7 linked regions of the Homo sapiens genome follow. The protein of the gene in region 7 purifies or fractionates together with the protein of the main gene of each other region. This does not show direct contact. Each region holds a gene or a part of one and is shown on either strand. Other genes may lie near its edges. The genes, in order: USP54, WDR59, TBCD, USP19, F2R, SLC60A2 and CRYL1.

Evidence for each region.
Region 1: the proteins of CRYL1 (region 7) and USP54 purify together in Homo sapiens (affinity purification with mass spectrometry; one large-scale study listed by BioGRID and IntAct). This does not show direct contact.
Region 2: the proteins of CRYL1 (region 7) and WDR59 purify together in Homo sapiens (affinity purification with mass spectrometry; 2 studies listed by BioGRID and IntAct, with this or other methods). This does not show direct contact.
Region 3: the proteins of CRYL1 (region 7) and TBCD purify together in Homo sapiens (affinity purification with mass spectrometry; 2 studies listed by BioGRID and IntAct, with this or other methods). This does not show direct contact.
Region 4: the proteins of CRYL1 (region 7) and USP19 purify together in Homo sapiens (affinity purification with mass spectrometry; 2 studies listed by BioGRID and IntAct, with this or other methods). This does not show direct contact.
Region 5: the proteins of CRYL1 (region 7) and F2R purify together in Homo sapiens (affinity purification with mass spectrometry; one large-scale study listed by BioGRID and IntAct). This does not show direct contact.
Region 6: the proteins of CRYL1 (region 7) and SLC60A2 purify together in Homo sapiens (affinity purification with mass spectrometry; one large-scale study listed by BioGRID and IntAct). This does not show direct contact.

Annotation. Positions count from the first base shown.
Region 1 is NC_000010.11:73,511,343-73,514,842, reverse strand, and holds part of USP54 (ubiquitin carboxyl-terminal hydrolase 54), read left to right. Parts: intron 1-3,500.
Region 2 is NC_000016.10:74,978,624-74,982,123, forward strand, and holds part of WDR59 (GATOR2 complex protein WDR59), read right to left. Parts: intron 1-3,500. UniProt on the Homo sapiens protein: As a component of the GATOR2 complex, functions as an activator of the amino acid-sensing branch of the mTORC1 signaling pathway. The GATOR2 complex indirectly activates mTORC1 through the inhibition of the GATOR1 subcomplex.
Region 3 is NC_000017.11:82,923,065-82,926,564, reverse strand, and holds part of TBCD (tubulin-specific chaperone D), read right to left. Parts: intron 2,914-3,500; coding exon 2,832-2,913; intron 1,627-2,831; coding exon 1,508-1,626; intron 166-1,507; coding exon 74-165; intron 1-73.
Region 4 is NC_000003.12:49,107,550-49,110,823, forward strand, and holds the end of USP19 (ubiquitin carboxyl-terminal hydrolase 19), read right to left. Parts: coding exon 3,162-3,274; intron 3,056-3,161; coding exon 2,895-3,055; intron 2,814-2,894; coding exon 2,635-2,813; intron 1,637-2,634; coding exon of another isoform or gene 1,409-1,636; exon of another isoform or gene 1,124-1,408; intron 980-1,123; coding exon 863-979; 3' UTR 501-862; downstream 1-500. UniProt on the Homo sapiens protein: Deubiquitinating enzyme that regulates the degradation of various proteins by removing ubiquitin moieties, thereby preventing their proteasomal degradation. Stabilizes RNF123, which promotes CDKN1B degradation and contributes to cell proliferation.
Region 5 is NC_000005.10:76,726,126-76,729,625, reverse strand, and holds part of F2R (proteinase-activated receptor 1 isoform 1 precursor), read right to left. Parts: intron 915-3,500; exon of another isoform or gene 793-914; intron 1-792. UniProt on the Homo sapiens protein: High affinity receptor that binds the activated thrombin, leading to calcium release from intracellular stores.
Region 6 is NC_000006.12:111,276,339-111,280,505, reverse strand, and holds the end of SLC60A2 (sodium-dependent glucose transporter 1), read right to left. Parts: 3' UTR 501-4,167; downstream 1-500. UniProt on the Homo sapiens protein: May function as a sodium-dependent glucose transporter. Potential channels for urea in the inner medulla of kidney.
Region 7 is NC_000013.11:20,442,358-20,445,857, forward strand, and holds part of CRYL1 (lambda-crystallin homolog), read right to left. Parts: intron 1-3,500. UniProt on the Homo sapiens protein: Has high L-gulonate 3-dehydrogenase activity. It also exhibits low dehydrogenase activity toward L-3-hydroxybutyrate (HBA) and L-threonate.

The sequences.
Region 1 (3,500 bases), on a different chromosome or scaffold from region 7:
GTCTTGAACTCCTGACCTCAGGTGATCCCCCCGCCTCAGCCTCCCAAAGTGCTGGGATTAAAGGTGTGAGCCACCGTGCCTGTCCTAAGACTTGATATTAAGATACATTTCTGAGGATCCGTATCCTAATGTAGATTTTACAATAACATTTACTAAGGTGGTCTTTGATAGGACTGGTTGATATGGGAAGAATCTAAAGAATAAGGGAAAGCTGGAGTCTGCCTCAGTGAGCTTTCTATCTAAGGAAGCAAGAATACACAAATAATTTTTTTTTTTTTTTGAGACAGAGTCTCGCTCTGTTGCCCAGGCTGGAGTGCAGTGACGTGATCTCAGCTCACTGCAACCTCTGCCTCCTGGGTTCAGGCCACTTCTCCTGCCTCAGCCTCCCGAGTAGCTGGGATTACAGGTGTGTGCCACCACGCCCAGCTAATTTTTATATTTTTAGTAGAGATGGGGTTCACCATGTTGGCCAGGCTCATCTCGAAGCCCTAACCTCAAGTGATCCACTCGCCTTGGCCTCCCAAAGTGCAGGGATTATACACGTGAGCCACCGTGCCAGGCCACAAGTAATTATTTTAAGAATAATAAGGCCAGGCATGGTGGCTCATGCCTGTAATCCCAGCACTTGGGAGGCGGAGGTGGGCGGATCATGAGGTCAGGAGATTGAGACCATCCTGGCTAACATGATGAAACCCCGTCTCTACTAAAAATACACACAAAAAAATTAGCTGGGCACGGTGGCCCACACCTGTGATCCCAGCATTTTGGGAGGCCGAGGCAGGTGGATCACCCAAGGTCAGGAGTTCAAGACCAGCCTGGCCAACATGGTGAGACCCTGTCTCTATTATAAATACAAAAAATTAGCTGGGCATGGTGGCGGGCACCTGTAATCCCAGCTATTTGGGGGGCTGATGGCAGGAGAATTGCTTGAACCCAGGAGGTGGAGGTTGCAGTGAACTGAGATTGTGCCACTGCATTCTAACCTGGGCGACAGACCAAGACTCTATCTCAAAACCAAAAACAAAAAAAAATTTGTATTACCCAAAATAGCAACATTTTTCATTGCAGGTAGTTTGAAAATACATAAAGTATCAAAAATCACTGATAATCTCACTCTTAATGTTTTCATAAGCTTACCTTTGGTTTTCATTTTTATACACATGTACTATATAGTTTTGTTTTTGCAAAAAGCAGTATCCTTTACACTATATGTATACAGTTTAGTATCATGACTTTCTCATGTTATATCTGTGAGCATTTGCTGTAAAAACTACCTTTAATGGTTATAAAGTGTTTCATATGAATGTACTGTAATTTATTTCTTCAACCATCCTACTATTGTTGAATATTTAGGTTACTTACAATTTTTTTTTTTTTTTTGAGGCAGTCTCGCTCTGTCATCCAGGCTGGAGTACAGTTGCACAACCTTGGCTCACTGCAACCTCCGCCTCCCGGGTTCAAGCAATTCTTCTGCCTCAGCCTCCCGAGTAGCTGGAACCATAGGCGTGTGCCACCAAGCCTGGCTAATTTTTTGTATTTTTAGTAGAGAAGGGGTTTCACCATGTTGGCCAGGCTGGTCTCGAACTCCTGGCCTCAAGTAATCCGCCTGCGTCAGCCTCCCAAAGTGCTGGGACTATAAAGTGAGAAGTGACTATAAGGTGAGCCACCGCTCCTGGCTTACTTGTAATTTTTAATAACATAGTACTGTGTTGAATATCTTTGCACTTAAGTGGTCACGTTTCTCATGAGCTCCTTAGAATAACCTTTTAGAAGACTAATAACTAGTTGAATGTTATAAACTTTTTTTTTTTCATTTTTGAGACAGGGTCTCATGTTGTTGTCTTGGCTGGAGTGCAGTGACATGATCACAGCTCACTGTAGCCTTGACCTTCTTGGCTCAAGAGATCCTCCCACCTCAGCCCCTTGAGTAGTTGGGACTACAGGCATGCACTACCATACCTGACTAATTTGAATGTTATAAACTTAAAAAAAATATTGATACATACTGGCCAGTTAGCTTTGAAGAAGACTATACTTCTGAAAACAGTATGAAAGAGTACTTACTGACCATTAATTTTTTTGTCTAGTAGTGTAAAGAAACAAATTTTTAAAAATCTATCTAGTAGTCAATCTATTCTCAATATATTTATCAAATCAAGCGGAGCATGATGACTCATGCCTGTAACCCCAGCTACTTGGGAGACTGAGGCAGGAAAATCACTTGAGGCCAGGAGCTTCAGGCTGTAGTGTGCTATGAGCACATGCCTGTGAACAGCCACTCTCCTCCAGCCTGGGCAACACAGTGAGACCCTATCTCTTAAAAAAAAAAAGTAAAATCAAACTAGTCTTTATTTTTGTTAGAGTCCTTGGTTTAAAAACTGAGTCCTTAAGAAGTGACATGACAGGCTGGGTGCAGTGGCTCACACCTGTAATACCAGCACTTTGAGAAGCCAAGGTGTGAGGATCACTTGAGCCCAGGAGTTCAAGACCAGCTGGGCAACACAGTAAGATCCCCATCTCTACAAAGACTGAGAAAATTAGCTGGGTGTGGTGGTGCGGGTCAGTAGTCCAGCTACTTGGGAGGCTGAAGCAGGAGGATCAACTGAGACTGGGAGGTTGAGGCTGCGGCGAGCTGTGGTCATGCTACTGCGCTCCAGCCTGAGCAACAGAACAAGACCCTGTCTCAAAAAAAAGAGGAGTGATATGACATAGAATAAAGAAGTGATCAGATAGAATTAATTGGGAAGTAGATGAAGGAAAATGCCAATTAGGATTCACATATGAAAAAATATAATTTGGCCAGGTGCGGTGGCTCACGCCTGTAATCCCAGCACTTTGGGAGGCTGAGTCGGGTGGATCACCTGAGGTCAGGAGTTCGAGACCAGCCTGACCAACGTGGTGAAACCCCATCTCTACTAAAAATACAAAAAAAATTAGCCGGGTATTGTGGCACGTGCCTGTAATCCCAGCTACTCGGGAGGCTGAGGCAGGAGAATTGCTTGAACCCAGGAGATGGAGGTTGCAGTGAGCCGAGATCACGCCACTGCACTCCAGCCTGGGTGACAAGAGTGAAACTGTCTCAAAAAAAAAAAAGAAAAAATATAATTTGAGAGTTCTTTATCTTATTGTAAAACATTTATTAAGCACCAAATTACATTACTTTTTAAAATTTATTTATTTTTTGAGACAGAGTCTCGCTCTGTTGCCCAGGCTGGAGTGCAGTGGCACAACCTCAGCTCACTGCAACCTCCGTCTCCCAGGTTCAAGCGATTCTCGTGCTTCAGCCTCCCAAGTAGCTGGGATTACAGGCATGTGCCACCACACCTGACTAATTTTTGTATATTTTGTAGAGACGGGGTTTCACCATGTTGCCCAGGCTGGTCTCAAACTCTGAGCTCAAGCAATCCACCTGCCTCAGCTTCCCAAAGTGCTGGGATTACAGGTGTGAGCCACCACGCCCGGCCACCAAATTAGTTTTTCAAAAAATGCTAAAAAAAAAA
Region 2 (3,500 bases), on a different chromosome or scaffold from region 7:
AGGGGGACCAAGGAACTGTTTGGAGTGATGGAAACGTTCTACATCATGATTACGGCAGTGGTTACATGACTACATCCATTTGTCAAAACCCAACAAACTCTACAATTATACCTGCATAAACCTGGATTTTTTTTTTTTAATCACTCTGGCTATATGGAAGATAAAATGGAAGAAGGAAATGCTACTGTGAGGGAAGAGTTGTCTCCAAGTATGTTCAGCTGCTTTGGACATACAGAGCTTGATTTTCTCGCAGATCCTGAAGTGGAGACACGAAGTAGGCAGCCACCGTGGGTCTGCAGTTCTTCTCTTCAACACAGGAGTCATCCACTGCAGCACTTTTGCAAATATCATTAGGTTAGCCTTGTAACTGCACATTCCAGCATCTTACCTTTCCTTGAGAGTGAAAACTAATCTCCACACTTCTCAGTACTCTGAACTGTACTTTCCAATATCATAGCCATTAGCCACAGTGGCTATTTAAATGGCAATTAAAATGCCATAAAATTGAAAATACATCTGTCGCACTAGCCCCATTTCCATCATCACTGGAAGTTCTACAAAACAGTGATGCTCTGGGCCAGGCGCGGTGGCAGCATTTTGGGAGGCCAAGGCGGGCAGATCACGAGATCAGGAGATTGAGACAATCCTGGCTAACACAGTGAAACCCCATCTCTACTAAAAAATACAAAAAAATTAGCCAGGCATGGTGGCGGGCGCCTGTAGTCCCAGCTACTCGGGAGGCTGAGGCAGGAGAATGGCATGAACCCGGGAGGCGGAGCTTACAGTGAGCCAAGATCGAGCCACTGCACTCCAGCCTGGGCGACAGAGTGAGACTCTGTCTCAAAACAAAACAAAACAAAACAAAACAAACAAACAAAAAAACAGTGTTGCTCTGGAAGATTACCTGCAAGTTGTGTGTTTTTTTTGTTTTTTTCAGATGGAGTCTCGCTCTTGTCACCCAGGCTGGAGTGCAGTGGCACGATCTAGGCTCACTGCAACCTCCACCTCCTGGGTTCAAGCGATTCTTCTGCCTCAGCCACCCGAGTAGCTGGGATTACAGGCACCCACCACCACACCCGGCTAATTTTTGTATTTTTAGTACAGATGGGGTTTCACCATATTGGCCAGGCTGGTCTCGAACTCCCAACCTCAAGATCCGCCTGCCTCAGCCTCCCAAAGTGCTGGGATTACAGGTGTGAGTCACCACACCCGGCCTTTTTTTTTTTTTTTTTTTTTTTTCTTTGAGACAGAGCTTCACCTTGTCACCCAAGCTGGAGTGCAATGGCGTGATCTCAGCTCACCACAACCTCCAACTCCTGGGCTCAAGCAATTCTCCTCCCTCAGCCTCCCGAGTAGCTGGGATGACAGGCATGCACCACCACGCCCAGCTAATTTTTATTGTATTTTTAGTATTTTTAGTAGAAACGGGCTTTCACCATGTTAGCCAGGCTGGTCTCGACTCCTGACACAGGTGATCCACCTGCCTCGGCCTCCCAAAGTGCTGGAGTTATACGCGTGAGCCACCATGCCTGGCCTAAGTTTTCTTATAGTGTTAACACTCATTGATGCCAGGAAGCACTTCACAGTAGTTGCCAAGCAGCACAGGCTCTTGATTATTAATTAGTGACAGTAATAGCCCAAAGCATTGTTTCATAAAATAAATGGCACTTTTATAAACTATAAAAAAGACTTTCACACTTCAGACTGGGGTTTTCCTCTGAAAAATCTAAGTCTTTTTTTTTTTTTTTTTTGAGACAGAGTTTCGCTCTTGCCCAGGCTGTAGTGCAACGGTGCGATTTGGCTCGCTGCAACCTCCGCCTCCCAGGTTCAAGTGACTCTCCTGCCTCAGCCTCCCGAGTAGGTGGAATTACAGGCACACGCCACCATGCCTGGCTAATTTTTGTATTTTTAGTAGAGATGGGGTTTCACCATGTTGGCCAGGCTGGTCTCAAACTCCTGACCTCAGGTGATCTACCTGCCTTGGCCTCCTAAAGTGCTAGGATTACAGGCGTTAGCCTACGCCCAGCCAAAAAATCTAAAAGTTTTAATTTTAAAAAATTATTTTCAGACCAGGTGCAATGGCTCACATCTGTAATCCAGCGCTTTGGGAGGCTGAGGCAGGCATATCACTTCAGGTAAGGAGTTCAAGACCAGCCTGGCCAACATGACGAAACCCCATCTCTACTAAAATACAAAAATTAGCCCGGTGTGGTGGGGCACGCCTGTAATCCCAGCTACTCAGGAGGCAGGAGAAGCACTTGAACCCAGGAGGTGGAGGTGACAGCGAGCTGAGATTGCGCCACTGCACTCCAGCCTGGGCAACAGAGCGAGACTCCATCTCAAAAATAAAAAAATATATATTTTTAGGCCAAGGTGGGAGGATCACTTCAGCTCAGGAGTTCAAGACCAGCCTGAACAAGAACGTAAAGCCCCATCTCTGCAAAAAAAAACACACAAAAAGGCCGGGTGCGGTGGCTCACGCCTGTAATCCCAGCACTTTGGGAGGCTGAGGCGGGCGGATCACAAGGTCAGGAGATCGAGACCATCCTGGCTAACACGGTGAAACCCTGTCTCTACTAAAAAAAATATATATATACAAAAAATTAGCCAGGCGTGGTGGTGGGCGCCTGTAGTCCCAGCTACTTGGGAGGTTGAGGCAGGAGAATGCCGTGAACCTGGGAGGCAGAGTTTGCAGTGAGCAGAGATCATGCCACTGCACTCCAGCCTGGGCGACAGAGAGAGACTCTGTCTCAAAAAAAAAACAAAAAAAACACACACACACAAAATTGTGGGGCTTGGTGGTGTGCACCTGTATTCACAGCTACTCAGGAGACTGAGGTGGGAAGATCACTTGATACCATAAGGTTGAGGCTGAGGTGAGCCAAGATTGCACCACTGCATTCCAGCCTGGGTGACAGAGCAAGACCCTGTCTTACACATATATACATATATATTTTTTGTATTTTTTTAGACAATACATATACATTTACATATATATATATATATATATATATATATATATATATATATATATATATTTTTTTTTTTTTTAGATGGAGTCTCACTCTGTCGCCCAGGCTGGAGTACAGTGGTGAGATCTTGGCTCACTGCAACCTCTGCCTCCCAGGTTCAAGCTATTCTCCTGCCTTAGCCTCCCAAGTAGCTGGGATTACAGGTGCATGCCACTATGGTCGGCTAATTTTTGTATCTTTAGTAGAGATAGGGTTTCACCATGTTGGCCAGGCTGGTCTCAAACTCCTGACCTCAGGTGATCCGCCTACCTCGGCCTCCCAAAGTGGTGGGATTACAGGCGTGAGCCACCACGCCTGGCCATATATGTATATTTTTTAGGCCAGGCACGGTGGCTCACGCCTGTAATCCCAGCACTTTGGGAAGCTGCAGCAGGAAAATCACTTGAACCTCGGAGTTCAAGACCACCTGGGCAAGATACAGAGACTCCTATCCCTATTTAAAAAAAAAATGCAAAATGAAAGAAATTT
Region 3 (3,500 bases), on a different chromosome or scaffold from region 7:
AACATCCCCCTTAGCGTTCATCTGCTGGCCTTTCAGAGACTTACGACTTTAGGGAGGAACTGTTGGGACTCACCTCGCAATGGCCTTCAAGCCGTCTCTCCTGGACTCAGCAAAACTTACGTCCTCGGGGGAAGTGTGGGTAACTGCTCTTAAACCTGTGAGAACCTGGAAAGCAATAAAGAATCACAGAAGAACCATAAGCTATAACAAAGTGCACTCTTTAGGGAGGTGGCAATGTTGGCCCGGAGCCACAGACCCCACACCATGAGATAGGCAGCTCCTGGCACCACCTTCCTCACGGCCATCCATGGCCCCTGGTACAACCCAGGAAGGACACCCGGGGAGAGGTCACCTCCAGCCTCTCCACGGCCCCCAGTACAACCCAGGAAGGACACCCGGGGAGGAGTCACCTCCAGCCTCTCCACGGCCCCCGGTACAACCCAGGAAGGACACCCGGGGAGAGGTCACCTCCAGCCTCTCCACGGCCCCCAGTACAACCCAGGAAGGACACCCGGGGAGAGGTCACCTCCAGCCTCTCCACGGCCCCCAGTACAACCCAGGAAGGACACCCGGGGAGAGGTCACCTCCAGCCTCTCCACGGCCCCCAGTACAACCCAGGAAGGACACCCGGGGAGAGGTCACCTCCAGCCTCTCCACGGCCAGCCCCCACCCCAGGGTGTCACTGGGGGTCTGGCCACACCCTACCTGAGGTCCCCCCCTTTTGTCCTACGCTGAGACCTGGGGTATTGACAAAGGAAGCTGCTGGGTCCCGACAACCTCATCTGTCATATCTCCAAGTGATCCTGTTTCACATTTATCTGTGTTTCAACTGGATAAACCCCCACATGCGAGTTTTAGATGGCATGGCGGCTGCGAGGCCCACCCGCCACACAGGCAGGAGTCCGTCTGGAGCTGCAGATCCTGAAGTGCCAAGGCTGGATCCCATGGGGAGGGAAGGGCGTGGGGAACCCAGTGGCCAGGGCCTATTCCAGCTTCAGACGCCAGGTGGCCGGAGGGGAGACAAGCAGGAGTTCCCGGCAGGTTGGTCAGTGGGACCAGCACCACAGGAAAGCGTGAGAGAGCAGGTCACTGAGGCCAGCGTGGGGCTGACCTCTGGGAGGACGTGGAACCACCTCTGCCCCGACCTGGATGCAGGATGCACGGCCGCAACCAAAACAGGACCCGGCTCCACAACGCACAAAGGCAACTGTGTTCTCCTCACTCTCGGCAGCTGCTTCTACAAACAACACCTTCTCCTCCCTCCCAGAATTCAGCTTTTTCAAGTCTGTCCTCTGACAGCAAAGGGTTCGCCAGGGCCCTAAGGGGCCACAGACCTTGGGTGCCCTCTGCCCCCTTCCTCCTGGCCACAGGTGCCGGTTTCCAGGAACCCCCTCCCAGCTACAAGCACTGATGGGTTTATTAACGGCTGGGCCTACCTCATGCCCCAACACACGAGGCTCCCACACCCTCGCCCTAGGCCCCGTCCACTGCGCGTGGCCAGCCTCACCTGCTGGAGCCGGCCTTTCAGAAGGAAGCCTGGAAGGGCGCCCAAGGCCAACGAGAAGCCACAGCGAGTCATCTCCTCGGGGTTCCGAAGCTCAGCCAGGTACTGCGTGATCAGCTCCTCTGAAAGGAAGCAACGAGTGTGAAGAGAGGCCCTCTGCTGCCCATCGTGTACAGCCACACCCGACGTGTGCCCCAAACAGGAGCAAAGCCACAGTGAACAAAGGAGGAGCCGCCTGAGGTTCCCAAAGCAGACACGTTTCCAAAGTGGCCTACCTCAAAATAGGAATCAGAAAGAGAATTTTTTTTTTGAGAGAGTCTCATTCTGTCACCCAGGCTGGAGTGCCGTGGTGCAAGCTTAGCTCGCTGCAGCCTCAACCCCACACTCAGCCTCCCAAGTAGCTGGGATTACAGGTGTGTGCCACCATGCCAAGCTAATGCATGATTTTTATATACTTATAATAATTTTAAGTGGTGATTCACACACTTTTGACGTGATTAATAATGCATGTTCTATCATATGACATAAAGGAACACTGTGGGCCAACATATGTGCATGTGACACTTTAAAAATAAAAGTACGATTCATGAAGCAGATCCCTCGAACATGATGTGCGAGAAGCAAGCCTGAACTTCAGCACGGGGGTGCAGGATGTACAGTGAGGCGGCACAGCAGCTACGCACGGGACACGGCGTAAAGCCAGCCTAATGCTACTTTCATAAAGAAGGAAAAAACAGCAAAATGTATTAACGAGTGAAACACACAGCAGAAAAATGTCACGGTGCATACAAAAATTCTAAAAACACTGACCGAGTGCAGTGGCTCACACCTGTAATCCCAGAACTTTGGGAGGCTGAGGCAGGTGGATCACCTGAGGTCAGGAGTTCGATTCCAGCCTGGCCAATGCAGTAAAACCCCGTCTCTACTAAAAATACAAAAATTAGCCGGGTATGGTGGCAGGCACCTGTAGTCCCACCTACTCAGGAGGCTGAGGCACAAGAATTGCTTGAACTCAGGAGGCAGAGGTTGCAGTGAGCCGAATCACGCCACACCACTCCAGCCTGGGTGATGGAGCAAGAGGGTGCCGTCAACAGAGACGCGTCCCTGCTGAGCCACCTGTTCAGAGCTGATGCAACATCCTGGGCAGCTGCAGGACCTGCCCACAGCTCCTCGGCTGGGAACCTGAGACCCGAACAGTCCCACTCCAGCCATGATCGTGGTGGCTCTGCTCCACTGCACAACCGAGGCCTCCTCCGTGCCCAGACACTCCCCAGCAGCTTCCTGCTGGAAGCCCCTGGAGTCTTCAAGAAAAGGGCTCCCCACTCACCCTGAATTGCGGGATCTGCCTCCCCCGGCTCCTTCATGTAATATTCACTGCATAGAGCAGCCAGGGCCGAGACTGCTGCATCCTAAAACAAAGGCAGCACGGTGAGCGCACAGCAGCTCTGCTCGGAGAAGCCCCCGGCCAGGGACAGAGCAGGTCACTCTGAAGTCGGAGAAGCACCTGACCAGGGACACCGTGGTCACCCTGAGGTCAGAGCAGCCCCTGCCTGACCAGGGACCCAGCGGGTCGCCCTGAGGTTGGAGAAGCACCCGGCCAAGGACACAGCAGGTCACCCTTGAGGTCAGAGAAGGACCTGACCAGGGACACAGCGGGTCACCCTGAGATCTCGGCACAGCAATGACTTTCGAACCAAACCAAAAGAACCCCTAAGTCATGCTACTCCTTTCCAGCACGCCTGCTCACCATCATCTGTCAGATACACGCATCACTTTACTACCACTACAACTAAGAAACTGAATGGATAACCTGATTATTCCTTCCACAATGTCTGTCTTCTAATATGGAACAATAATAAAATGGAGCATATTTTTCTTTCCCAGAAATAGTTATGAAGAAAAAGGCATACACTATGCACCCAGAGTAACGGGGCAGGGCCTTCAGGCCAAGCCACGTCAGCCTCATTTAGAGAGACAGGGCTCCGGGGGCGCACTG
Region 4 (3,274 bases), on a different chromosome or scaffold from region 7:
GCAAGATCTGCCCCACAGCAGTTTTCCTCCTGCTCTGTTACCTGCAGGGATGCAGTTAGTGTTCAAGTTACAGCAAAGAAAAAGCTGAGGACAGGAGAGGAGGAGGAAGATCTCCCAGTACTTCTGTCCCCCAAGTCCTCCCTGACTTGTCAGCCCCAGGCTGCTCTGGTGAATGCACCTTTTACTCCACGCTGTCAGCTCCAGTGCTTCATATACTCCTCTGTCCCTTGGCTATATTGAGATCCTGACGATGCCTACCAAGCTGCCTCTTATGTAGGATCCAGAACCAGTGGGATGAAAGAGCAGCAGGTAGGCTCCAAAAAGCTGATAGCACTGGGGGCTTCATGACCCATAGGACATGAGCTGGGACCCCATCATCTCCCTTCAGACTAGGGCACTTTCAGGGTCTCTCATATATAAACACACATACACACACATACACACCGCAAATGATGGGGAGGGGAGGTGGCCCCAGCATGTGGTGGATCACAGTCACTAAGTCTACTTACTTATTATTTATTTTTAAAATATATTTAAACAGCAGCAGTCACTTCCAAAATGCAAAAAAAATTACAATTTTTAGAATAAAATTATAATGTTTATAATGCGGGTCAGAAGAATTGAAGGTACAACAGAATCAAATCACGCAGCACTGGAGGCGGCTGGAGAAGCCAAAGCCCACTGGTCAGGGGTCCAAGCTGACAAGAAGTCCCAACCTGAGAGGTCTCCACACCCAAATCATACCCCTCAGCTTCCCATTGACAGAGCCAGTGTCCTCTGGGTTAGAGAAGGAGAAGCGGCAAGGAGCTGGCCCTCTGTGTGGGTGTCCCAAACCCAGTCCCCCCCATCAGCCAGGGACCTGCTAATCCACCTCCTCCATGTTGCTGTAGGTGGGGGCTGGCCGATCCACAGGGGGGGCGAAGCGTTCAGGGGCTGTCCGCGTGGGGGCCACCTCGGGGGCCTGGCCAGGGCCTAGTCCCTGCAACAGAATACGAGGACAGGGGTTGGGGGCTGCCCAGCATGCCGCCTGGCATCCCGGGGGTGCTGGCTTGGAGCCCTGGCACCCAAGGGAGGGTCCCAAGGCAGGCGCAGACAGCAGCGGCGTTGAGACAGAGAGACGAGATTGGGCCTGAATAGTCTGGTTTTATTAACACTTTTAAGTACAGGAAGTAGCTTGGGCAGGGCCAAGCCTGAGGCCAAGGGTCAGAGCAGCAGGATGAATGGACAGACAGCCAGATGGATACACACCCTAGGATACTCTGCCCCTGCAGGGGCCACAACCTCCCCACCCTCTCCCACCAGATGCATAAGCTGAGGCCCAAAGCCCAGAGGTGTTCCCCACAACAAAGGCAGGCATGGCCTGGGGCAGGCAGGTAGGCCAGCTCACAGCAGCTGCCTGCAGGCGAGCTCATCTCCAGCGACTCTGGGATACCAGAGGATAGAACACGTTGAGCACGAGGGCCACCAAAGCCGCCACGGTGCCCAGGACAAAGTACCGGAGGCAGCCCTCATCTGGTGTGGTAGGGCCACGTGGTAGGGGGCCCACCCAGTCTTGGGGCCCCCAGGGACCCAGGGGCCCAGACCCCTCAGGCACCGGCTCCTCCTCAGCCTCCAGCTCCTGCCAAATCCGGGAAGCCTAGGGTATGTGGAAACGGCCATCAGCACCCCGGGGGTGGGGAGGACCCAGTGTCCCTGAGACCCTTAGCCATGACAGTCCCACCTGGGGTGACTGGGGCTAACACCCTGCATTCTAGATCAAACAGCAAGGAGGAAGGCAGGCAGCCAACCTCAGGGCTGTCCAGAGTAAGAGCACAAGGGTAAGAGAATCTTGACAGCATTTTGGCCTACCCTAAACAGCTCTCAATCCACATGCAGCTCCGCATGGAGGTGGGAGGGGAGTTATCTGGTTAGTATTTCAGTCCAGGCCTCCCCAAAGGACACCGATTCATAGAGAACAGGACTGCCAATCCCAGAGCAATCTCCTTGCTCCTTCCCACCCATACCCAGATCCTGACCAGTCTTCTGCAAGGATTTCTCTAAGCTTGACAGAGAAGGCTCAAGAGAGGATGGAGCCAGAAAGGAGACGGCCAGTCCAGAAAAGAGATGTGCCTACGCCCACTAACTGGGCCTATGGCACACCATGTCACTAAAGAGAAGATCCTGAAGGCTCAGCAAAGACAGATGCTTACCTCAAAGAGTATAACAGCCACCAGAGGCCATGGCCAGCCCAAATAGGCCTTGTCTTGAGTGCACACTAGAACTCAGGGACATCACAAGTGAGGGTGTGTGGGCCAGCATGTGGGGAATGTGCAGAGGAAATCTAGGAGAGTGTCAGGTATAGTTCATTCACAGCATAGTGCCCAGTGAGGTTCAGAGCAGTTGCCTGACCTGTGCCAAGTAGGTGCCAATGTGCTTGCCAGTGGCAGCATGTTAGTGTACTTGTATGTTTGTTAGTGTCCCCAAGGCATGGGGATGCCTCTGGCTAAAGCTTTGATGTTAAGAGAACTCTGCAATTCTCATGAATCCCAAGGCTCAATGGGCCTGTGGCTGGAGGAGAGGAAGCTATATCCCCCAACCCGGCCCCAGTCTGTGAACTGTCCCCCAGTATTCTGTAAAGCCTCCCACATGCCTCACCTGGCTGGCAGCAGCCTCAGCTGCAGGGCCTAGGTCTGGGTGGTGCTCAGAGTGACCTGCCCTGGGGGGCCTCTCCACAGGAGAGTTCCGCCGGCGGTAGAAGAGTACATAGGCATAACGCGTCACAACCTGGCTCTCGTCTACCGTTGTCACTGTGCTGTCATCAAACAAGCGCCAGCCTACAGCAGGGTGGGAAGAGTGTGAACAAAGTCTGCACCACCACCCCTACCACCTATCCTGCTGGCTGTGTGTGCCCTCACCCACGTCACTGCGCTGACTGCTACGATCATTGGGCAGGCGTGCACAGGCAGTGTAGTGGCCACCAATCATGCCTCCATAGTGGTTGATGACAGCATATAGATCGTAGCTGGGCAGCTGCTCCTCTTTCTGACCAATGCAGAACTTGCTCAGGTCCAGGTTCCTGCAGGTCAGGTCCAGTCAGGGAGGGGTGAGACAGGCAACAGGCGCTCAGGATGCCCATCCTGGTCCTCACACCCCACCCACAGTTACCAAGGTCCACTGCTTACCTAACAGGGAACTCCACCAAGTCATTGATCTTGTCACGCCAGATAAAACTACGAAAGGAGAAGCGCTTGAGCTGCACGATGAGAACATTTGGCAGGCGCCATAGCAACAGCTG
Region 5 (3,500 bases), on a different chromosome or scaffold from region 7:
AAAACTACTAGCAGAAAACATAGAGGAAAAGCTTCATGACATTGTCTGGGCAGTAATTTTTTATAATGACCATAAAAGCACAGGCAATAAAAGGAGAAGTAGACAACTGGGACTGTATCAAAGTAAAAAGCTTCTGCACAGCAAAGGAAACAATCAACAGTGAAGAGAAAATTTATGAAATGAAAGCAAATATTTGCAAACCATACGTCTGATAAAGGGTTAATATCCAAAATATATAAGGAACTCCTATAACTCAACAGCAAGATAACAAATCACCTGATTTAAAAATGGACAAAGGATCTGAATAGACATTTTTCAAAAGAAGACATACAAATGGCCAACAAGTATATGAAAAAATGCTCAACATCACTAATCAGGGAAATGAACATTAAAACCACAATGAGTTATCACTTCATACCTGTTAGAATGGATATTATCAAAAAGATGACAGATAACAAGTGTTGGTGAGGATACGGGGAAAGGAAGCCCATCTATACTGATGGTGGGAATTTAAATTGGCATAGCCATTACGAAAAACAGTATGAAGGTTCCTCTAAAACTAAAAATAGAACTATTATATAATACAGCAATTCCACTGCTGGGCATACATCCAAAGGAAATAAAATTAGGATGCTGGCTGGGCACGGTGGCTCACGCCTGTAATCCCAGCACTTTGGGAGGCCAAGGTGGGTGGATCACCTGAGGTCAGGAGTTTGAGACCAGCCTGGCCAACATGGCAAAACCCTGTCTCTACTAAAATTACAAAAATTAGCCAGGCTTGGTAGCGCATACCTATAATCCCAGCTCCTCGGGAGGCTGAGGCAGGAGAATTGCTTGAACGCAGGAGGCGGAGGTTGCAGTGAGCTGAGATTGCGCCATTGCACTCCAGCCTGGCCGACAGAGCGAGACCCCATCTCAAAAAAAAAAAAAAAAAAAAAAAGACCAGGATGTCAATAGCTGCAATCTCATGTTCATTGCAGAATTATTTATAATAGCCCAGTTATGGAATCAAACTAGGTATCCACTGATGAATGAATGAATGAATAAAAAATATGATGTATATACACAGTGGAATACTATTCAGCCTTAAAAAAGAAGGAAATTCTGTCATTTGCAACAACATGGATGAGCCGAGAGGGCATAATGTTAAGTGAAATATGGCAGGCACCGAAAGACAAATATAGCATGATTTCACTTATATGTGGAATCGAAAACAGTTGAACTCATGGAAGCAGAGAAGAGAATGGTGGTTAGTAGAGGCTGGGGTTGGATGGGTGGGTAGGGTAGACTGGGGAGACATTGGTCAAAGGGTACAAAATTTCTGTTAAAAGGAATTAGTTAGAAAAATCTCTTGTATAATACGGTGACTATAGTTAATAACAATGTGTTGTATACTTGACAATTGCTAAGAGAGTAGACTTTAAGTGGTCTCACCACAAAAAATGATAAGTATTTGAGGTAATACATGTTATAAGTTTGATTTAGCCATCTCACAAGTTATGCATATTTCAAAACATTATGTTATACACTATAAATATATATAATTTTTTGTCAAATAAAAGAAAAAGGGGGCTGCCAGGTGTGGTGGCTCACACCTGTAATCTCAACACTTTGGGAAGCCCAGGTGGGAGGACAAGTTGAGCCTGGGAGATCGAGGCTACAGTGAGGTATCATCACACCATTGTACTCCAGCCTGGGCAACAGAGTGAGACTCTGTCTCTAAAAAAAAAAAAAAAAAAGTGACCCAGTCTTAAGTAAAAAGACAGTGAGCGGAAACCAACCTCAAGTTGACCCAGATGTTGGAATTAGCAGATAAGGATTTTGAAGAATGTATTACAACCATGTGCAAAAAAAAAAAAAAAGAAAAATATTTTATAGAAATGAACTGAAAATAGGAAATATCAGCAAAGAACTACCAAGTGGAAATTCTAGAAATAGAAAATAAAATACAATATGTTGGCATCTATTTCCAAAATGAAGAGCAAAGCTAGAGTAGTACCAACTCAGAGACAGCAGAGCAGAGCCTGGTAGTGTAGGGTTGAGGTCAAGCTACCTAAGCAAAGTTGGGAGAGGGTCTCCAGACAATGAAGGGGTGGCCTGGCAGGAGATCTGTCACAGGGAAGGAATGAATGTCTCCAGTGATGAATGTGAATACACACTTGTGTCTACATTGATCCTTAAGGGTAAGAACTGTTCCTGTTAATCTCTGAACCTCCAGTACCCTGTGCCCTGCATGTGGTAGGCACATATTTGTATTCTAATATTGACTCTGTTCAGGGATCACTTAACTTCTCTGAATTAAGCTCAGAATCATTAAAATGGAATTCTAATTCCTGTCTGGCCTACAAATCTGGCAACTGGAGCATCCCGTGTGAAACAGGACATACATTCACTTTGGAAACCATAACGATTAAGCAGTTTAAGAAATTACTATTATCCTTCCTCTCCCACTTCCATGTAGTGTGCTTTTATACCCAATTGTTTGCTCACTTAATTAAGTTAAAAGGAAATCTAGGTTCATCTTCCCTCCTACTTAGCAATGTTTATAGTTTTTTAGTACAATGAGGGAATGAACAAGTTGTATATTATATAGCTCTAGGGTTCAGAGCTATAAATCAAATTTTGAATTCACAATCTTTTCTGGAAGTATCACTCTCTTACCTTTGCAATGCATGTAACTTACTCTGTGTTCACCTTGCCCCAGTCACACAGAAGCCTGACCTTGGTACCAACAGACCCTGTGGATGTGAGGCTGTTCTCAAGATCACAATGAGTGTGTGGGTGCTGAAAGAAAAGAATGAATGGCTTCTGGCACTTAAACATTTTTTTTTATTTTTAATTTTTTTTGTTTGTGGTTCTGGCACTTTAATATCACAAAAACATGCATATGCAAAAATGCTGATCTAGAGGAACCAATTTTTTTTTGAGATGGAGTCTTGCTCTGTCACCCAAGCTGGAGAGCAGTGGTGCGATTTTGGCTCACTGCAACCTCTGCCTCCCCAGTTCAAGCAATCCTCCTGCCTCAGCCTCCCAAGTAGCTGGGATTACAAGCACGCACCGCCATGCCCAGCTAATTTTTTTTTTTTTTTGAGACAGAGTCTCGCTCTTTCGCCCAGGCCGGACTGCAGTGGCGCTATCTCTATCTCGGCTCACTGCTAACTCCACCTCCCGGGTTCACGCCATTCTCTTGCCTCAGCCTCCCTAGTAGCTGGGACTACAGGTGCCTGCCACCGCGCCCGGCTAATTTTTTGTATTTTTAGAAGAAATGGGGTTTCACCGTGTTAGCCAGGATGGTCTCTATCTTCTGACCTCGTGATCCACCCACCTCGGCCTCCCAAAGTGCTAGGATTACAGGTGTGAGCCACCGCGCCCGGCTGCCCAGCTAATTTTTGTATTTTTAGTAGAGATGGGGTTTCACCATGCTTGCCAGCTAGTCTCATGCTCCTGGCCTCAAGTGATCCACCCACCTCAGCCTCCCAAAGTGCTGGGATTACAGGCAT
Region 6 (4,167 bases), on a different chromosome or scaffold from region 7:
CTGCAGCAACACGGATGAAACTGAAGGACACTATGTTAAGGGAGTTATTTCACTTAACAGAAAGACAAATATTCCATGTTCTCACTTAGATGTGGGAGCTAAAAAATTAATCTCATGGAGGTAGTGAGTAGAATAATAATTACCAGAGGCTGGGAAGGGTAGGGGACAGAGCAGAGGGCAGCAGGTTGGTTAGCAAATACAAAAATACAGTTAGACAGAAGGAATAAGTTCTAGTGTTTGATAGCACAGTAGAGTGACTACAGTTAACACTAGTTTATTGTATATTTCAAAATAGCTACAGGAGAAGATGTGAAATGTTCCCAACACAAAGAAATGATAAACATTTGAGGTGATGGATATCCCAACTACCCTGATTTGCTCATTACACACTGTATGCATGTATCGAATTATCACAGGGAACCCATAATTATGCATAGCTATTATGTATCAATTCAAAAATCAGTGAAACAACTGAAACATGAATCTTAAACCAACATCACTATTGTTATCAATATTTTATTCAAACAAGTTTTTATATGGTACAAAGCTATGTAAACAGTGAGTAGTCTATTTTTTTTGTTTGAGATGGAGTCTCACTCATGCAGTGGTGTGATCATGGCTCACTGCAGTGTTGAACTCCTCGGCTCAAGGTATCCTCCCGCCTTGGCCTCCCAAAGCACTGAGATTACAGGTGTGAGCCACCACGCCCAGCCTAGGTGAGTAGTCTTAAATTCAGATGTAATAAACCTGCAAGATCATTCCTACTCTGTTAAGCCCCCCAAATCAAAATTGACTGGTGAAAACCTGCCTAGAAGGGCAACCTCCAAAAGATCTGAGCTTTTGTTTTAGGAAGGACTTCAAATAACAGCAATATTTCCTGCACTGGACCAAGCAGCAGTGGAGTGAATAGAAAACATGAGATCTCTTCCTCTCCAGTTTTCCTTTAAGAAAGTGCACAGGCTAGGCGCGGTGGCTCATGCCTGTAATCTCAGCACTTTGGGAGGCCGAGGTGGGCGGATCACGAGGTCAAGAGATCAAGACCATCCTGGCTAACGTGGTGAAACCCCGTCTCTACTAGAAATACAAAAAATTAGCTGGGCACAGTGGTGGGCGCCTGTAGTCCCAGCTACTCAGGAGAATGGCGTGAACCCGGGAGGTGAAGTTTGCAGTGAGCTGAGATAGCGCCACTGCACTCCAGCCTGGGCAATAGAGCGAGACTCTGTCTCAAAAAAAAAAAAAAGAAAGAAAGAAAGTGCACAGAATTTCAAGGATCTACAAAAGTGGCATAACTTAATCAATCTGTAAGTAAGCCTAAGAAAAAACCACGGTCATTAGTAGAGGATCCAGTTTTGTGCACTGATCAAAGCAGTGGTTCTCAATCTTGGCTGCACATTACAATTACGGGGGATTGGGGAGGAGGAGTTACTTTTTTAAATATCCATACTCAGGCTCCACTCCAGACCAAATTGGTATTTAAGTTAAAATGCTGGGCATCAGTCATTTTTAAACACTGCCAGGTGATTCTAACAGCAGCCAGGTTTGAAAACCACTGGAGCAAAGGTTAATCACTTGGGCAGAGGACAAGAACACATTTTGCAATCACGTTTTTCCCTTGGGTCCTCTTTCCTTCTGGAGCTTATGAATTCTGGAGGGTGTAGAAGCAAAATGTCACTTTCCCTTGCTTCAGTAAGACTAAGAACTTCCTATATCATTCTATTAGTCTGTTTTCATGCTGTTGATAAAGACAGACCTGAGATTAGGTAATTTACAAAAGAGGTTTATTGGACTTACAGTTCCACATGGCTGGGGAGGCTTCACAATCATGGCGGAAGGCAAGGAGCAGCAAATCACATCTTATATAGATGGCAGCAGGCAAAATGAGGGCTTGTGCAGGAAAACTCCCTCTTATAATAACCAAAAGATCTCGTGAGACTTCCTCACTATCACAAGAACAGCACGGGAAAGACTTGCCCCCATGATTTAGTTACCTCCCACCAGGTCCCTCCAACAACACATGGGAATTCAAGATGAGATTTGGGTGGGGACACAGCCAAACTATATCAATCACCATCAGAAAAGAAAGACGTTGCACCCTGAGACAAAACAAAAATGATAGGGTCATCTAACTGTTGATGATCTAAAAAACAATAAAACCTTGAATGTTTCCCATAAACCTGGACTCCCTAAGAAATTTTATCCTTGGTTTTTCCTGTACTACATCTGAAGATTTGCCATAACCTTTATGAATACAATAATTACATGAGGCAGTTACTGTTTTTCACCGTGAACAGTCTAATGCAAACTCAGAAACCTTGGCAGTTTTTAATTTTTTCCTTCAAATACTTACGTTTTTTATTAGGCAAGCCAGTCATTCTCTTGCTCTCTTTGCAGGTAAACTTTTCCTTTTCTAAATGCTTCTGTCTCTGAGTATTTCTTCAACAAGGGTAAAGATTCATAGAGTGCTTGGACACAGAACTGGATACTCTGCTCCTGGGGGCAGAGTTCACTGCAAGTGATAAGGGAAAGAGCTGAGAAATGAGAACCTGCTCTGTCAGCCCAAGGGTCTTTGGAGCTGTAATCCAAGATCTAGTTTGACCATAAATATATTCTCTTGGCTGGACTGAATAAATCTCAAAAGTTGGTGTCAGATTCCTTTGTTGTAGGCTTCCTAAGCCTTCTTGCCTATATTCACCTCAACTACACTGTGCCGAGTAATTTCTACAAAATTCTAAATCAAAAATTACCCCAAAGACATAGACAAGTACTAGAAATGAACAAACAAAAACACACACCAAGGAACCAAGAGTTTAGCTACTTTCCTTTTCTAAAACTGGGTAAAACCTATTACAATAAGAGTTACTGGCTCTTCCGCTGATAGAAATTTTGTCATGGCAAATTTTACTTAAAATAGAAAAACATAAGCTTGGTGAAGGCAAGGATCTCATCTGCCTTCTCCTATTATATTCCCAGGGCCCTGGTTACTGAACATGGTAAATGCTCAGTAAATATCTGTTAGATAACTGAAATGCATGAATTTGGAAAACTTTCTGGTCCGCACAGATGAGAACTGTAATAATATCTCTTGCAAACTGGGACTCCTCTTAGAGCTCACTCAAGTAGAAATCTTACCCTCTTAGGAGAAAGCTTTCTTTCTTGGTAAAAATCAAACAATCCACAAACCTTGTCTAACACGCTCTTCCAAAAAAGTCTGCAATTTGGTGTGATTTTGTTTTTCCAGTTCTGATGCAGATGAACCAGGCCATCCATCCCAGGACCTGCCAATTTTCATCCCATTCAGGTATCGATTACCAATATTTATGAAGCCTAGCACTTCTCTGGTACAGAGCAGACAGTGGACATTCCCTTTTGATGATAACAGCTCCTGCATGCAGAGTGGTGGGAGTAGGAGGGTAGAAGTAGCCACTTTCTGGATGGGAGCAATGTCATCAACCCAAAGGGAACCCCTTCATAGGCTAACCAGCAACTCCTGAGGCAAGGCCCAATAAGGGCAATGGCATCTACTCAAGTCAAACAGGTTTCCTCCGGAATCTGGACCAGAGATACACAGAGGAACTCCTGAGGCAAGGCCCAATAAGGGCAATGGCATCTATTCAAGTCAAACAGGTTTCCTCTGGAATCTGGACCAGAGATATATAGAAGATGGGCCAGGAATGCAGAAAACGAGTGGTCCCAAGGAGGGGCAGAACTGCTGTGAGAGAGGCAGAGAGCAGCCCATTTATCGTTCTCAGACCACACACCTTCTGGTTCCAAGGTGGTTCAGAGGGATCTCTGTAAACGAATGAGCACAAAACACAGAACCATTCATTTGGCAGAAAACTGAGATCAAAGCTGTACCTGCTACTGCAAGGACAAAAAAGAAAGTTCATTAATACTTAGTCTACAGAGCCTCACATGCAGTAAGCCCTCAAGCACTTGTGCAATGACTGAACAAAAATTGCAAGCAGAGATAACAAAACTTTGAGGTAGTTGCCCAACATAACTTTTCTTTGAGTTCACTTATTCAGTACATGGGTGCTACTGATATGATCATAATGCGCCTAAAGTCTGAGATAATACCTTAAAAGTATGTGTTTATTCTCTTCCTAAAGCTACTCTCTTCTGGAAAAACTTGATTAAGAAAAAAATCTAAGACAAAAAACACAAACA
Region 7 (3,500 bases):
TGTGCTGGGCTGGGGTTATAAGGATGCTGTCCATGTCACAACTGAGTTTATTTCCTTGCTATTATTCATTCAGATACCCCTGGTCTGAAAAAGGGAGTCTGACAAATTTATCAGCACCTTCCTCACTTGCAGTTGGTTACAAAGCTCAGAGAAGCTGCAGTCATTCTCTTTGCCCTAAAGGGACTGGGAGGACAGGCAGGGAAGAATGTCAGTGAGACAGCTGAGAAGGCACCTGCACTCCCTCTCCAACCCAGAGAGATGCAACCCATGCACTCTCAACTCTGTCTTTCAGGGGCCCTTTCTAGAGACAGGCACCAAATGTGAAGCACTAGCAAAAATTCTACCACTACTAAAGGTAATCAGCTTGACTTTGCTTAATTAAAGGTTGACAGCATCTTTCAAAGCACTGACTTTTGTTTGTTTGGGTTTTGTTTGTTTTGAGGCAGGGGAGGGAGACACAACTCATGACAAATAATATTCTCATGCACAACCACCATCGGCATGCCCTGATTTTGACAAATAAAACTCTGGGGAGAGGTAAAGCACAATACAACTTCCTAGTTCTCACAACTGTTCTGTCAGAAGGATCACCCTCTTCCTTAGACTGATCACTGGCTCAGGCAGTATCAGCAGCTGACAGGTGAGGCAGAGTTTAGACACTGGTGTTTCCCTGCCTTTCCTGAAGGGAAGAAACGACATGATGCTATTCCAGGCATTACTTTTAGTGCTCTCTAACTTGTATTTTTAAAGTAAATCATTTATAAACTTCAGTGTTTTATGGTTAGTAAAAGTTACCTGTGTGGTTAATTCAACTCATTAGGGCCCTGATGTGGAAAACTGGCACAGCCCCAGCAAGTCTGCTAACTGGACCACTCCCAGGGGAAGGGTGTGCTGGGTAAGTACTCACTTCTGAAGTTTAGCCACTTGCTTATGCAACATACATTTTCCAAAACATACATTTTCATGGTGAAAAAAAAATTCTGTCAAGTTTGTTATTGTTGTTTTTAAATCCACCCAGGCATTTTATTATTTTTATTTTTTGTTTTTATTTTTTGAGATGGAGTCTCACTCTGTTGCCCAGGCTGGAGTACAATGGCATGATCTCAGCTCACTGCAACTTCCATCTCCTATGTCAAGCGAGTCTCCTGCCTCAGCCTTCCAAGTAGCTGGGACTACAGGCCTGCACCACCACACCCGGCTAATTTTTGTATTTTTAGTAGAGACAGGGCTTCATCATGTTGGCCAAGCTAGTCTCGAACTCCTGACCTCAGGTGATCTGCCCACCTCAGCCTCCCAAAGTGCTGGGATTACAGGTGTAAGCCACCACACCTGGCCAACCCAGGCATTTTAAATAGGCATCCTGTTGCTAGAAAATCTGTATTGGCTAGTGCAAGATATCTGGAAGCAGCTTTCAACGTGCTTTACAGAAAGAAAAAACAAATTAGAAGACTTCAATACTTAGAGTACTTTACATGCAAAGAAGATCTATTAGATAATTTTAAGAGGAAAAGACATGGTAAGAAAGGAAATATGAATTAGAATCCTACTGCAATCATAGCAAAAGGAAATCCACTCTCAGGCTGAAGATGGAGGCGTTCTACATTATAAACTCTGTTAGCACTAGTTACATCTCTGGCTTTAATCTGCCTAATTAACACCCCAGTTTCTCTTCACCATTTCTCCCAGGAGTACAATCTTTAAAATCTGTCAGATTAATAGACTGCTGTGACAACACTTTTTAGGAGGTGGACACCATAATTATTTACATTTTTAAAAAAAGAATCTTTTTGCTCTAGAATAAATAATGTGTTAAGTAAAAGGGGAAAGAGCACATCTATTTTCAACATTACAGGCAACTAACTGCACTATGCTCTAACCAGGAGCTTGTTTTTTCCTTAAAAATCAAAATAAAGGGTTTAATTTTTAATTAAATAAAAGCATATTACCAATCCTAAACAGTTCTGCCATAATTGAGAAGAAATTATACCCAATCGAGAGAGATCTTTCCAAAGTAAAAATCAGTGTAGACTGAGTTTAAGAATGTGACTTCCTGGGGCTTAGGTGTTCCAGTTACAAGGATTATTGTTGTTTGCTTTAAAGAGCAGTCCTTTCTCCAGGTGACCGCAGAGAACCCAGAGGGGGCCACCGTGGCACAGGCATCGGTTGCTGTCCTGATTATGTGTCCGTCCCATCCTCATTCCAATGATGTTTTTGTACCGTTTGTGAAATCATTTCTTTAGAATTGTGTTAAAATGCTTGACATGAAAAAATAATACAACTGAAAATATTCCATTTAATCCTGCAATTATATAGTTTTACTGCATTTCTAGTATTTCTCATAAGGAACAAGTGAGAGTTTTGAATACAAATGTTTTTGGGGATGGAGTCTTGCTCTATCACCCAGGCTGGAGTGCAGTGGTGCGATCTCGGCTCACTGCAACCTCTGCCTCTCAGGTTCAAGCGATTCTCCTGACTCAGCCTCCAGAGTAGCTGGGATTACAGGTGCGCAGCACCATGCTCAGCTAATTTTTTGTATTTTTAGTAGAGACGGGGTTTCAGCATGTTGGCCAGGCTGGTCTTGAACTCCTGACCTCAAGTGATCCACCCGCCTCAGCTTCCCAAAGTGCCAGAATTACAGGAGTGAGCCTGTAACAAATCCTTTTTTATTTTTAACAAAGTGCTGGGAATAGCACGAAACATAAAATTGGAGACCCTTTAAGTAAAGAGTGAGTTTTAAAGAAGAAAAATGGAACATAAAAAAGTTTATGTGAAGGACATCAGTAACTCACAGTAGCATTTTCATTTTTGAAAATTCAGGTTTATTTCCAAGATCCAGGTAGTGGGGAACCCAGAGATATAAGGCTTACACTTGGCACCACTTTTACCTATGAGGTAACTGTTTATTTCAAAAGCACAGACAAAATGGCTAAAATGACAAGCAGAGTTTTTAACATACTCAGAGTGCTGGGGGAAATGTTGGCATTCAGGGCCTGGTAACTGCCCCAGGCTTCCAGTTGGAACCCTCAAGGGCTATATCCCTTGAGCATCCCTTATACCAGGAATAATAGTAACAACAGACCAGTCTTCACAAGGACTGAAACTTGGTCTCAATTTATCTCAATCCACAATTAAGTTAGGGAGATATGCTCCTAGCCTACCTGCCTTCTAGTGAAGCTTCTCTGGAGCATGATAATATCAACCAGAGCCCTAGTTTTTCATAAGCAATGTCTCATACTCAAACAAATAGACAATATTAGGGAAGACCTGAATGAAAACCAAGAGAGAAAACAGACTTTAGAAATAGACCCTTAGGGCATTCACATAATGGTGGTATCAGACATAAATTGTGAAATAACTATAATTAAGATGTTTAAGAAACTAAAAGGATATTAAACAATTTCAGCATAAAGTAAAACTATGACAAAAATCAAATGGAAAGTCAACAACTAAATAATAAAAATTAGCTGGCTTATCATAAGAGAATCAAGGAATTTCCTGGC